3 separate regions of the Homo sapiens genome follow, and all the other regions are linked to region 3. Evidence: fine-mapped expression QTL. A gene starts in region 3. Each other region holds a variant in brackets. All regions are shown on one strand. Distances are between the middles of the regions.

Region 1 (4,242 bases), 320 kb before region 3:
AGAGCTAATTAACTATAAATTAGGGCTTGAAAAATGTGAGCAGAAAACTAATTTTTATCGATAACTGAACCATACTAAGGGAAATATAAAGGGTTAAGCTAAGTTAGTCAAGAGTAAATCAACATTCTCTCTAACCCCACCCCATTAGCCCAACTGGTTTACAAAAATAAGATGCTGTTATTATTCAGCTATTTAATACAGCTATTTAATACAGTTGTGAATAAAAGTCATAGTAAAGAGAAAAAGAGGACTGCTGTGTTTTCAGGCATGAAGAACACTAACTTAGATGACAGGTTTTCCAGTGTTTTTATATTTTTACAGAGAGAACTGTATACATCTAAGAACTAAAGGCTTAAAAAAGAACCTTATGGAAAAAGAAACCTAGTGAACATATATAATTCTGAGTGATTTAGTTTTTTCAAAAATCTCTTTTTTTTGGGAAGAGAATCTTTTTTTTTTTTTTGAGACGGAGTCTTGCTCTGCTGCCCAGGCTGGAGTGCAATGGCATGCTCTGCTCACCACAACCTCCGCCTCCCAGGTTCAGGCGATTCTCCTGCCTCAGCCTCCCGAGTAGCTAGGACTAAAGGCATGTGCCACCACGCCTGGCTAATTTTTGTATTTTTAGTAGAGATTGGGTTTCACTATGTTCTCAAACTCCTGACCTCGTGATCCGCCTGCCGTGGCCTCCCAAAGTGCTGGGATTACAGCGTGAGCCACCGCACCCGGCCGGGAGGAGAATCATTTATAAAAACTTCCCTATAGAAATAGCTTCGTAACATTTTTACTAATTGAAATAAAAAATAAATTATGAAAACTGGCATAACTAAAAAGCTACCATAATTTGTATAACAGAACATCAGGATAGGTATTCTGTGGCTTACTATTTAGAGGAATTTACAAAAATAAAATTAAAAATTGTACTTAAGTTTTTTACTCCTCAATCCCTCTTGGTGATAAGACTGGCAGTTTCTTAGAGTAAAATGCTCACGGGGTGAGAAGAAAATAACACAACTATGGATATATGCCATTCTAACATTTATTCTATATATGCATTTTTAAAATAGGCACCTTAGACAAGGAAAGGGCACGTCAGACAAAAGTACTTGATCCACAAGGAAATCTGCCAATGATGATAAATGTTTAACCTTGATATGCGCTTGATCAGTAATCCTGGCCCTAAACAAAATGATCAATTATAATTATCTTCGACCTTAGCCTCAAATCCTCATCTTCTCTCTCACATCCAAAACATCACCTAAATAAAGGATCTGTAATATTCACAAAAAATATAATATTCACAAAAAAGGTAAATCTCCCATAACTGCCAAAAATAGCAGTCCTGAGGATATTTACAATGTGGCAGTTTTCAGTGCCATAGTCTAAAGGAATAAAGCTTAAACCAGAATTTCAGGGACCAGCCTCTGGATGAAAAAGTACTCTCCCCTAAAATGGTGTTTCATAGACAAGCCCAAATGTAGGAAATGGAATTAAATAATAGCCTGTCTAGAGCACATTAAAAATTTTTCCTTTTGAACCCAAATCAACTATGTTCTTGGTTTTAATAAGACACAGGTTTCTTTATTGTTGGCCACAGCTACCAAGCAAGTAATGATTTTTAACTATGTTGCAAAGGGGCAGAGAATGGGCTTGGAGGCCTGAGGGACCAGGAGAAGACAGTATAATGAGACCTAAAGGGAGAAGGAAGGATGTATGGAAAATGGAGCCTTTAAGGGCAGATGGTTTTCACCAACCTTTGAGGGTCGGTTAGGTGACTCATTACTCATTTGACAATTTAAAAATGGATAAAAATATGGAAAATCTTTTTTAATGCCGTAACTATTTAAATGCATTCTTCTAAACTAAGGGCCTACAAATAAAGAAAGCCTTCACATGGGCAAACTTCAGGGCACTACCCTCCTCCAAAAATAAAAGTCACTTAGAAAATGAAAGGAAGAACAGTAAGAACAGAATAATAAATGATGGAGACCTATTTGTGGTTCTAGATATATATTCCCAAATAGGTTTAACAAAAAACATTTTACTGTCTTTAAAAAGAATCTATAAAAAGAATCAAGAATACGAAGTAAAGAAGGGAAAACTATCCCCTTATATCAGTTCCACCTAGTAGGGAGGGAACA[A/G]TAGGGCAGAATTGATTCTCTCTTCAAAAGAACTTTTCTTTGTTAAGGAACCCTAGTGATTGCTTTGCCCTGGTTCCTCTCAACTCCTTATCTTCTTCTACACTGTTCTCTCTAACATGAGAACTCCAGCCTTTGCTTCTACCACTTTTAGATGCTACTATACCTATAGGAAGGCTAAGCCATAATTGGCTTAGTGACAGAGCAAGAAAAACTCAAAAAGGCCCAAATATAACTTTCTGCTTCTAGTCCCATTCTGCATAGCCAGTGATTTCACATGTGTACTCTGGACTCACAGAGGCTTGAGCTGAAATCTTGGTTCCATCATTTACTAGATATATACATTTGGGAAAGTTCCTTAACTTATGTGCACTTCTTACTACCTCCTCATCTATAAAATGGGGACAGTAATAACTCCTGCCTTTCAAGATTAATGTGAGGACTAAATGAGATATTTAACACAGTTTTCTGGTACTTAGTAAATTCTAAACAAACATTAACAACCCATTATACTCTGCTTAAATCCAAGATTCCCCATGGTCTAGTGCAGTTGATTACAGGATTGTGACCAGCACTTTTTTAAAAAAAGAATTCATACTCACACACAAAATATCACAGTGCAATGAAGGTGAGTATTGTTTCAAAAATATTTTTTTCAGATACACACCCACCCACACACATATATTCTTAACTTAGCCTCATGTGGCTTTTCTGTGACACCTGCCCTAAGAACGGACAGCACATGTGTCTCTTCCTCAGGGCACAATAGTATCTTGAGAATTTTGTATAAAATTCTACAACACTTAACTGCACTGTGCTTGCTTATATGTGTGTTTTTCCACGTCTGTTTTTCCACAAGAACGTAAACTCCAAAGAAAGAAACTGCCTTCTGTTATCTATTTCTGGTGCTTGAAAAACACTGGATGCTCAATAAATTTTTGTTGAATGAATGAGTAAAATATCAAAACCTATTAGGTATTAAGAACACACAAAAATAATCACTTTCATTTGTATCTGATCAGGTTTTATTGTTATATAGGAATTTAAATTTAGCTATAAGTCACACAAAATCTATAAATTTTTTTCTCCCACAGTGCCTAGTATAGCCCCTTCTAATAAAAAGAGATGAATACGTTTACTTAAAAAACTGAAACTAGTAATGTGCAAAATGATTGTTAAAAAGTAGAACATCCAAGCATACAGACATGTTGCACAGTTAAAGTTTTATTTATTTATTTATTTATTTATTTTATTTATTTATTTTTGAGACGGAGTTTCACTCTTATTGCCCAGGCTGGAGTGCAATGGCGCGATCTCGACTCACCGCAACCTCCGCCTCCCGGGTTCAAGCAATTCTCCTGCCTCAGCCTCCCGAGTAGCTGGGATTACAGGCATGTGCTACCATGCCCGGCTAATTTTGTATTTTTAGTAGAGACGGGGTTTCTTCCATGTTGGTCAGGCTGGTATCGAACTCCCGACCTCAAGTGATCCGCCCACCTCAGCCTCCCAAAGTGCTGAGATTACAGGCATGAGCCACTGAGCCCAGCCCAGTTAAAGTTTTATTTAAGCAGACCAGACACATTCAGGCTTCTTTTTGGGGGCAAAGAAAATTGAAAAAAAAGTTATCAGACAGAAAAGGTTGTTTCTATATGACAAACTGTCCTTTCACAAATACTGCAGGTCCCATGAGAACACATCAAAATAACAACACTGGGCAGGTACTTGCTTGAGTACTTAAAACAGAAAAATATGAAGAACTTAAATATTTTCAATATTCTCATATTATCACAATTCTCAATTCTATTCAAATGTAAAATTCAAAGTTATACAAATTTACCAACTCTGCTTTTATTCCATCACAAAAAGCAAAACACTGGAAATCAATTCTAAAGAAACACTTTTCAACATGCTTAGAGGCAACAAAGGCAAAGTCAACAGACTACTAAATCAAAGTTACTTATAAAAGTTGGTTTTACCGTTGGCAAAAATAGATGCAAATAAATATTTGCTCTAAAATGAGACTTAGGTTTTTACGGTATGTGTTCCTTTATAGTAATCCTCTAGAATATTTAATTTCTAAATCATTAATAACTTGACTGAGAAATTG
Region 2 (4,242 bases), 59 kb before region 3:
TCGTGTCAAGGGCACATGAAACATTTACCAAGGCCAGGTGTGGTGGCTCATGAATAATTCTAGCACTTTGGGAGGCCGACGTGAGTGGATCACTTGAGGTCAGGAGTTTGAGACCAGCCTGGCCAACATGGTGAAACCCCATCTCTACTAAAAATATAAAAAAATTAGCTGGGTGTGGTGGCACACGCCTGTAGTCCCAGCTACTCGGGAGGCTGAGGCATGAGAATCGCTTGAACCAGGGAGGTGGAGGTTGCAGTGAGCCGAGACTGCATCACTGCACTCCAGCCTGGGCGACAGAGTAAGACACTACTTTGTCTTAAAAAAAAAAAAAGAAACATTTACCAAGACAGAACATATTCAGAATCATTAAACAAACCTAAATAAAGAATTAAAATCATACAAAGTATATTCTTTCACCAAAATGAAACTAAATTAGAAATAAATAATGGAAAGCTAGCTGGAAAATCTCTAAACATTTAGAAATCATCAACACATTTGTAAATAAGTTCATGAGTTAAAAAAAAAAAACCCACAAAGGAAATAAGAAAATATTTCGAAATGAAAACACATAAAAAGTCATCAGATAGAAATAAAGCAGTCCTCAGAGGAAAATTTACAGCATTAAACATTTAGGAAAAAAATATTGATGAGCTAAACCAGGGATCAAACTATGGCCCACAGCCCATTTTTGTAAATAATTTTTTATTGCAATTTAACAATGTCTCATCATTGACTTATTGTCTATGGATGTTTCATGCTATAAGGGCAGAGTTGAGTAGCTGTGGGAGAGGCTATTTGGTCCACTAAGGCTAAAATATTAATTGGCCTTTTACAGAAAAAGTTTGCTGACCCCTAACCTAAGCTTCCATTGTAAGAAATTAGAAAAAAAAAAAAAAAAAAAAAAAAAAGCAAATTATTTACAATGTAAGGAGAAAAAAAGAGATTTTATAAAAGAGCAAAATTCAATGAGAAAGAAAACAAACATAGATTAAATCAGTGAAGCCAAAATCTGGTTTTTTGTGTAAAATTAATAAACTTTTAGTCACACTGATGAGAAAAAAGATATTACAAATATAAGGAATAAGTATGGGGATATCACTATAGATCCTACACAGATAAAAAAATAAGGTAATATTAGGAACTATATGACAATAAATTTGACACATTAGCTGAAATGAACCAATTCCTTGAAAGACAAACTACCAAAGCTCACTGAAGAAACAGAAAACCTTAACAGCCCTATATATTAAACATACGTAATTTGTAATTCAAAACCTTCCCCTAAAGAAAAGAACAGAGCAATATCCCTCATGTATATAGAAACTATAAAATTCATTACAAAATTTTAGCAAATAAAATTCAGAAGCATCTTTTTTTTTTTTTTTTTTTTTTTTGAGACAGTCTGGCTCTGTCACCCAGGCTAGAGTGCAGTGGTTCAACGGCGGCTCACTGCAACCTCCACCTCCTGGGTTCAAGTGATTCTCATGCCTCAGCCTCCCGAGTAGCTGAGACTACAGGTGCACGCCACCACGCCAGGTGATTTTTGTATTTTTAGTAGAGATGCCTGGCTGATTTTTGTATTTTTAGTAGAGATGGGGTTTCACCATGTTGGCCAGGCTGGTCTTGAACTCCTGACCTCAAGTGACACACCCGCCTTGGCCTTCCAACATGCTGGGATTATAGGCGTGAGCCACCACACCGGCCCAGAAGCATCTCTTTATCTGCCCATACATTCAATCTGTGGTGATATATTGATTTAAAGTATATATAGGAAAAATCTGGGCCGGGCATGGTGGCTCAAGCCTGTAATTCCAGCACTTTGGGAGGCCGAGGTGGGCGGATCACCTGAGATCAGGAGTTCAAGACCAGCCTGACCAACATGGTGAAACCCCATCTCTATTAAAAATACAAAAAAATCAGTTGGGTGTGGTGGTGTGCACCTGTAATCCCAGCTACTTGGGAGGCTGAGGCATGAGAATCGCTTGAGCCCAGGAGGCAGAGGTTGCAGTGAGCCGAGATCATGCCACTGCACTCCAACTTAGGTGACAGAGTGAGTCCATCTCAAAAAAAAAAAAAAAATTCTGGCCTCACACAGATACAGTTTGAAAAAGAGAAGAAATATTTTTACAGATTTTTCAAATAATTCAATTCTTTCATACTGTTTCAAAACTCGACAACTGGTAATTTTAAAAAGGC[C/T]AGTTGCAATGTGGAAAATTTAAGAATGTCAATATTTTTTCAAATAACTTATATGGAAATCCACTGGTCTAATGTGCATCCTGAATGGATCATTTATCCATGCATGATTCTGTAATATCATGCATTAGTCATTTGAAAAATACTGGTTCATTGAGTTATGCAGATCTTCCAGATGTTGACATACTATACAATATTTTAAAAAATCACGTTCAATAATATAAGCACCAAGTTCACCAGAAAACTAATTGGGAAGTTTTCAAGTTCATGGTGGCAGATACAATTTTCTAAAATTCTAATTTTGCCTTGAAGCTCAAATTTTATTATTAGTAACATACCATCAATTGTTTTTCTTTAAGTATCACATTCATGTCTTTCATTTACAAGAAAAATGTCTACCTAACATTGAAATTAGAAGAACCATAGTTTGTCTATCAATCATTCTTTTAAGTAAACATGGTATTTCATGAACAAAGTGATTAATTCTGCTTGTAACTCAAAAAATTTTACAAGTGCTCTTCCTCCAGATAACTACTATATTTCTTCGGTAGCCAGCACAAATACTTATTTATATTCCCAATTTGTCATACAGAATACTAATAAGACATGTACTCGGCCAGGCACGGTGGCTCATGCCTGTAATCCCAGCACTTTGGGAGGCTGAGGTGGCAGGATCACTTGAGGTCAGAAGTTCACGACCAGCCTGGCCAACATGGTGAAACCCCGTCTCTACTACAAATACAAAAAATTAGCCAGGCGTGGTGGTCGATGCCTGCAGTCCCAGCTACTCAGGAGGCTGAGGCAGGAGGATCACTTGAACCTAGGAGGTGGAAGTTGCAGGGAGCCGAGATCGCCCGACCACACTCCAGCCTGGGTGACAGGGTGAGACCCTGTCTCAAAAAAAAAAAAAAAAAAAGACATGTACTCAGTAATCCAGATTTTAAAAAAACTAATAATTTGTATTGCTTTTTCAAGGACATCTTAAGAGAAAGGGGCATGCGAGTACATGGCAGTGAAGAATATAATGACTGCTTGTGACGTTTGGTGCCACTGCCTAGATTAGTCCTAAGGCCCACCAGTGCTACCCACAGCATTCCTTTTGCACCATCATAAGAGCCCACAGAGTGAAAAATGATAAATAATATCTCTGTATTGTTATAAACAAATTGTGAACTTGCAGATGCCCTGAAAAGGTCTCAAGGACCCAACAGGGGTCTGCAAAGCAAACTTTGAGACCCTCTCCTTAGGATAAATCCCTGTAAGAATTCTTTAAAAATTCATTATTGCTGTTATTTTTTGACCCACTCTGAATGTTTGATTGTGGACATTTAATCCCTTTTCACACCTAGTTAGAAATTGTTTGGTTCTATTTATGTGATCTTAATGTAAGATGTTTAGTGGTTCCCTGTATATTTTTTTTCTATTTTTAATTGATAGAAGGACATTTTATGTCCCTCATGACATAAAATTTAAACAGTACAAATAGGAATCTTGTAAAAATTAAGTCTCTTTCCTATTCCAGATCCCAGTACTCTTTTCCAGAAGCAACCACTGTCAACACATTTTGGAAGCTGTACCTTATTAACACGTATAGATCCACTTTATTTTTCAAGGTCTATGACACATACTGCCAAAATAACCTCTACAAAGATTGCACTGGTTTAACATCTAATCAGCAGCATGAAAATGCCCATTTGCTCACACCTTTTCCCCAAAGAAGTATTATTTTAAAAACTAATTTGTCTGATTAATTTGTACCTCTGAATTCTAATTACCCTAAACAATTTTTCATTTCCTTGGTTGAGCATTTAAGATGTTCCGATATTTTTGCACTACCTCTTTACATCCTTTGCCCAGTTTTTGTATTGGGGTGCCTGACTTTTTGTTAATAATATAACAAAATTTTTTATGATAAAGTTTTTATGATACACACAGTAATTCTTTGACAGTAAATGTTTTTAATATTTTTGCTCCATTTACAATGTTTGGTTTTTACTAAAATGTGACTGTATATCAAAGAATCTCACAGCTGGCAAGGGGTTTAACAAC
Region 3 (4,242 bases):
ACTCCCGGCTCTCTCCAGACCCAAATGTGAATGCCAGGGCCGCGGCGGCGCCCCACCCACAGCCCCATAGCAGGTCAGGACGAAGCGCCACGGACAGGGGACCCGCGGCCCCTGCCACAGGTCACACACATACAAAAAAATCATGCTGATTCCAAAAGCGGGCCTAGACCTCTCAAACTAACTGAATATATCTTCTTATCCTACAGTCACTTACCAATAAAAAGTTATCTTCTGGCCAGGCGCGGTGGCTCAAGCCTGTAATCCCGGCACTTTGGGAAGCAGAGGAGGGCTGATCACTTGAGGTCAGGAGTTCGAGACCAGCCTGGCCAACATGGTGAAACCCCATCTCTACTAAAAATACAAAAATTAGCCAGGTGTGGTGGCGCACGCCTGTAATCCCAGCTACTCGGGAGGCTGAGACACGAGAATCGCTTGAACCCAGGAGGTGGAGGTGGTAGTGAGCCGAGATCGCGCCACCACACTCCAGCCTGGGTGACAGAGCCAGACTCTGCCTCAAAAAAAAAAAAAAAATTATAATCTTCTATACTTCACTTCTATATGTTAATATAGTCATGCATATTTCATACATATGAATATTATTCATGATAAATGTATATCCCTCACAAAATCTTGGCTTTAATCCCTTCCAAGTTTCACAAAAATTTCACAAGCACAAATAAGCACAAAGGCTAAAAAGGACTACAGTTAGGCACATAGGAGTCAATCAAAACTTAAGAATTCATCCCTTTAGTTCCAATACGATGGGATGTGCTGGTTTGTTTCATTCATTCTTAAGGTTCTGGATAGTTCTTTCTCCCTACACTTCATATATGAAAAAACAAAAACAAAACTTGTTGCCTCTCCAGGACTCTCCTCCTGTTCCTTAAGTTGTTCATTCATATTAGTGAAAATTAACAAATATAGACTTTCTCATCAACACAGAGAGCATTGAAGTGGCCTGAGCAACGCAAACTGAACATCTCCAGGCTCAGGTTTAGTTTATCAGAGGCATTAGGATCTCTACCTTTGTCCTTGCATTCCAATTACTTATGTACATTCCCCTTTCCAAGTCACAAATACCTTCAGGGCAAGAATCTTTTCTGATTCTGGAGAAGCTCTGGACAAGTAAGTTTTGAGCACCAGTATTTGCTACCCTCTCGAGAAAGCTGAGTTAAACAGTTCCTGCCCTCGCAGTCTATCAGAGAAAGCTGGCTTGTAAATAAATTGCAACATAGGCAAAAGCAGAAGTGAGTACAGAATTAAATCTGAGGAAGCATTAACTCTCTGACTGTAGAGGAAGTTCAGGGATACATTTCTGTGTTCCTCAAAAGGCCTTCCATAAATACCTGTTGAATGAACAAATGAATGGATTAAATCTTTTAGGCGAGGTCCCAGATCCAAACGAGATGTATCAGTAGCTTCTGGAAGCCAGTGAAAAAACTTTTATCTTTCAACAATTGCGGGATGCAGCCTCCAGGGCATATTCACCCCTACCTCCACCTCGGGAAATAATTTTGGAGAAAGGAGCATACCTGTACTGCCAGCCTTTTGCACTGCCACCGCGGCTGCTGCTGCTGCTACTGATTCCACCTCCACAGCTGCTGTTCTTGTTCGGGGTCACCGCTGTGGCCTGGCCCTCCAGCTTTCCTTCGCTCTCCGAGACTTTCATTGTGGACACTGGTTCACCCCCCTGCATCTTAACGCCAAAGTCCACTTGCCCTTCTTGAGCGGGAGAGAACAATTCTGTAGTTCTGTAGGTGACTTTTTTTTTTTAAGATTTGATCTGAATATGATACCGGTTGCTAAATCACACGGCGGCTGGGGCGGGACTGTCAAATGGTCCAGAAAAGGAAGATACACATTCCCACAGAAGTTAAACTTTTGAGAGGGCAGGGGAAGCAACGAGGACAGATATCCTTCACATGTATCTCTCTCCTTTCCGGCAAAAGCAAGGAGGAAAAAGCATCCGGCGAGAAGACTTAAGTGACATACTCAAAAGAGAAGGAGTGTGGGGAGGTCGCAGATTCTGTAGCCAAGACGGCTGGGAAAAGGACGGAGCGCCACGGACAGGGGACCCGCGGCCTAACCTCGGGGCTGACCCGCCGCGCTCCCTCGTCTCCTCCGCAGGTCCTCAGGCAGTGCGTCCAGTCAAGCCCGCTCGGCAGTTCCCGCCGCAGCCCCCGAGATACAGCCAGGGCCGGCGCGCGCAGCCGGGGAGGAGGGTCGGGGAATGAGGCCGCCGGGGGCGGGACGCCGGCTCCCGGGGCCGCCTCTCCCAGGGCCAGAGGCGAGCCACTCGGGACAACTTCCTCTTATGCCCCTGGCCCGGGCCCTCGACTGGGTTCCCAGGAGCCGGTGAGTCTCTCGCGCTATCTCCAGACCCAAGCGCGAATGCCAGGGCCGCGGCCGCCGCCCCACCCACAGCCCCACAGCCCCACAGCCCCACAGCGGGTCAGCCACCCCCCGCCCCCTGCTCCCTTCCCGCCTTCCCTTCCGGAGTAGCGTGAGCTCACTTCCCTCACAGCCGAAGCGTCTGGCGCCATCTTGGGTCAGGGCGGCGGGTCCCTGAAGGAGGCGGAGGCTCTGGGAGCTGGTAGCTGGGCGACTGGCTGATGGGCGAGGGAGGGCGAGGGAGGGCGCCGCAACGGAACGAGGAACCCGGACAGTGAAGGAGGAAGAAACAAAGGAGCCAGCAGCACTAGAGAGTTCCCTTCTGGTGTGTGAGTGCCCGCCTTCCTTTTTTTTTTTTTTTTTTTTGAGACGGAGTCTCGCTCTGTCGCCCAGGCTGGAGTGCAGTGGCGCGATCTCGGCTCACTGCAAGCTCCGCCTCCCGGATTCACGCCATTCTCCTGCCTCAGCCTCCCAAGTAGCTGGGACTACAGGCACCCGCCACTACGCCCGGCTAGTTTTTTGTATTTTTAGTAGAGACGGGGTTTCACCGTTTTAGCCGGGATGGTCTCGATCTCCTGACCTCGTGATCCGCCCGCCTCGGCCTCCCAAAGTGCTGGGATTACAGGCGTGAGCCACCGCGCCCGGCCGAGTGCCCGCCTTCCTAACCACGTCCTAGCCTTCCATTTGAGGGGCCGTTCCAGGCATTTTAGGAAGAAAGCTTACAAAAATAAGAAAGTACAAGAACGAAGCAAACATCTGTACGTTTTAGTTACTTGGGGTGGGGGGGGGGCAAGCATGACATTGGAGTAAAGCCAATCATTATTATAAATTAAAAAGAAGCTGTCATGGAAATTAGAGATCTCAGAACAGAGCTAGGTACTCTTCCAGACCCCAGACAAATCTTTCACCTTGTTTAGGCCTTGGTTTTGGATTTGTAAAACAAGAGTGCATGGGTAGATTTCTAAAGTCTCTCCTAATTGCTAATTTTAGTTTATAATAACATGACTTGAGGCTGGGCACAGTGGCTCACGCCTGTAATCCCAGCACTTTGGGAGGCCGAGGTGGGCGGATCACTTGAGGTCAGGAGTTCGAGACCAGCCTGGCCAACATGGTGAAACCCATTCTCAACTAAAAATACAAAAATTAACCGGGCATGGTGGTGCGTGCCCGTAATCCCAGCTACTTAAGAGGCTGAGACAGAAGAATCACTTGAGCCTGGGAGGCGGACGTTGCAGTGAGCCTGAGGAAGGAGAGAGACCCTCTCATATTGTTTTATACTCAGTACCTGTTTTAAGAAAAAAAGAAACAGCAAGGAAGTAAAACCAAAGACAGGCAGCCCAGCGCCAGGCCGGAAACCAGGCCTGGGCCTGCCTGGCCTAAACTCAGTAGTTAAAAATCAACTCATAACTTAGAAACCGATGTTATTCATGGATTCCAGACATTGTGCAGCAGAACATTGTGAAACTCCCTGCCCTGTTCTGTTTCTCTCTGACCACCGGTACATGCAGCCCCTGTCATGTACCGCTTGTTTGCTCAAATCAATCATGACCCTTTCATGTGAAATCTTTAGTGTCGTGAGCCCTTAAAAGGGACAGAAATTGTGCACTTGGGGAGCTCAGATTTTGAGGCAGTAGCTTGCTGATGCTCCCAGCTGGATAAAGCCCTTCCTTCTACAACTCGGTGTCTGAGAGGTTTTGTCTGCGGCTCATCCTACTAAAAGCTGAGATTGCGCCACTGCACTCCAGCCTGGACAACAAGAGCAAGACTCAGTCTCAACGAAAGAAAGAAAAAAACAAAAACCGGCCGGGCATGGTGGCTCACTCCTGTAATCCCAGCACTTGGGGAGGCTGA

Evidence for each region. PIP is the estimated chance that this variant, and not a neighbour inherited with it, causes the effect.
Region 1: its variant is fine-mapped to the expression of OSBPL11 in substantia nigra (GTEx, PIP above 0.99).
Region 2: its variant is fine-mapped to the expression of OSBPL11 in whole blood (INTERVAL, PIP above 0.99).

The regions. Positions count from the first base shown.
Region 1 is chr3:125,273,051-125,277,292 of GRCh38, forward strand. The region is part of intron 7 of ZNF148 (zinc finger protein 148); the gene reads right to left. Among named protein-coding and RNA genes, the nearest start is that of SLC12A8, 62 kb to the left of the region's middle. The variant A/G (reference allele first, on the strand shown) is at 2,139.
Region 2 is chr3:125,534,070-125,538,311 of GRCh38, forward strand. The region is part of intron 11 of OSBPL11 (oxysterol binding protein like 11); the gene reads right to left. Among named protein-coding and RNA genes, the nearest start is that of SNX4, 16 kb to the left of the region's middle. The variant C/T (reference allele first, on the strand shown) is at 2,197.
Region 3 is chr3:125,593,105-125,597,346 of GRCh38, forward strand. OSBPL11 (oxysterol binding protein like 11) reads right to left here and starts at 2,393. Exons shown (of 13, transcript NM_022776.5): 1 at 1,533-2,393. The coding sequence starts at 1,696. RefSeq lists enhancers at 921-980, 1,941-2,000 and a silencer at 2,101-2,510.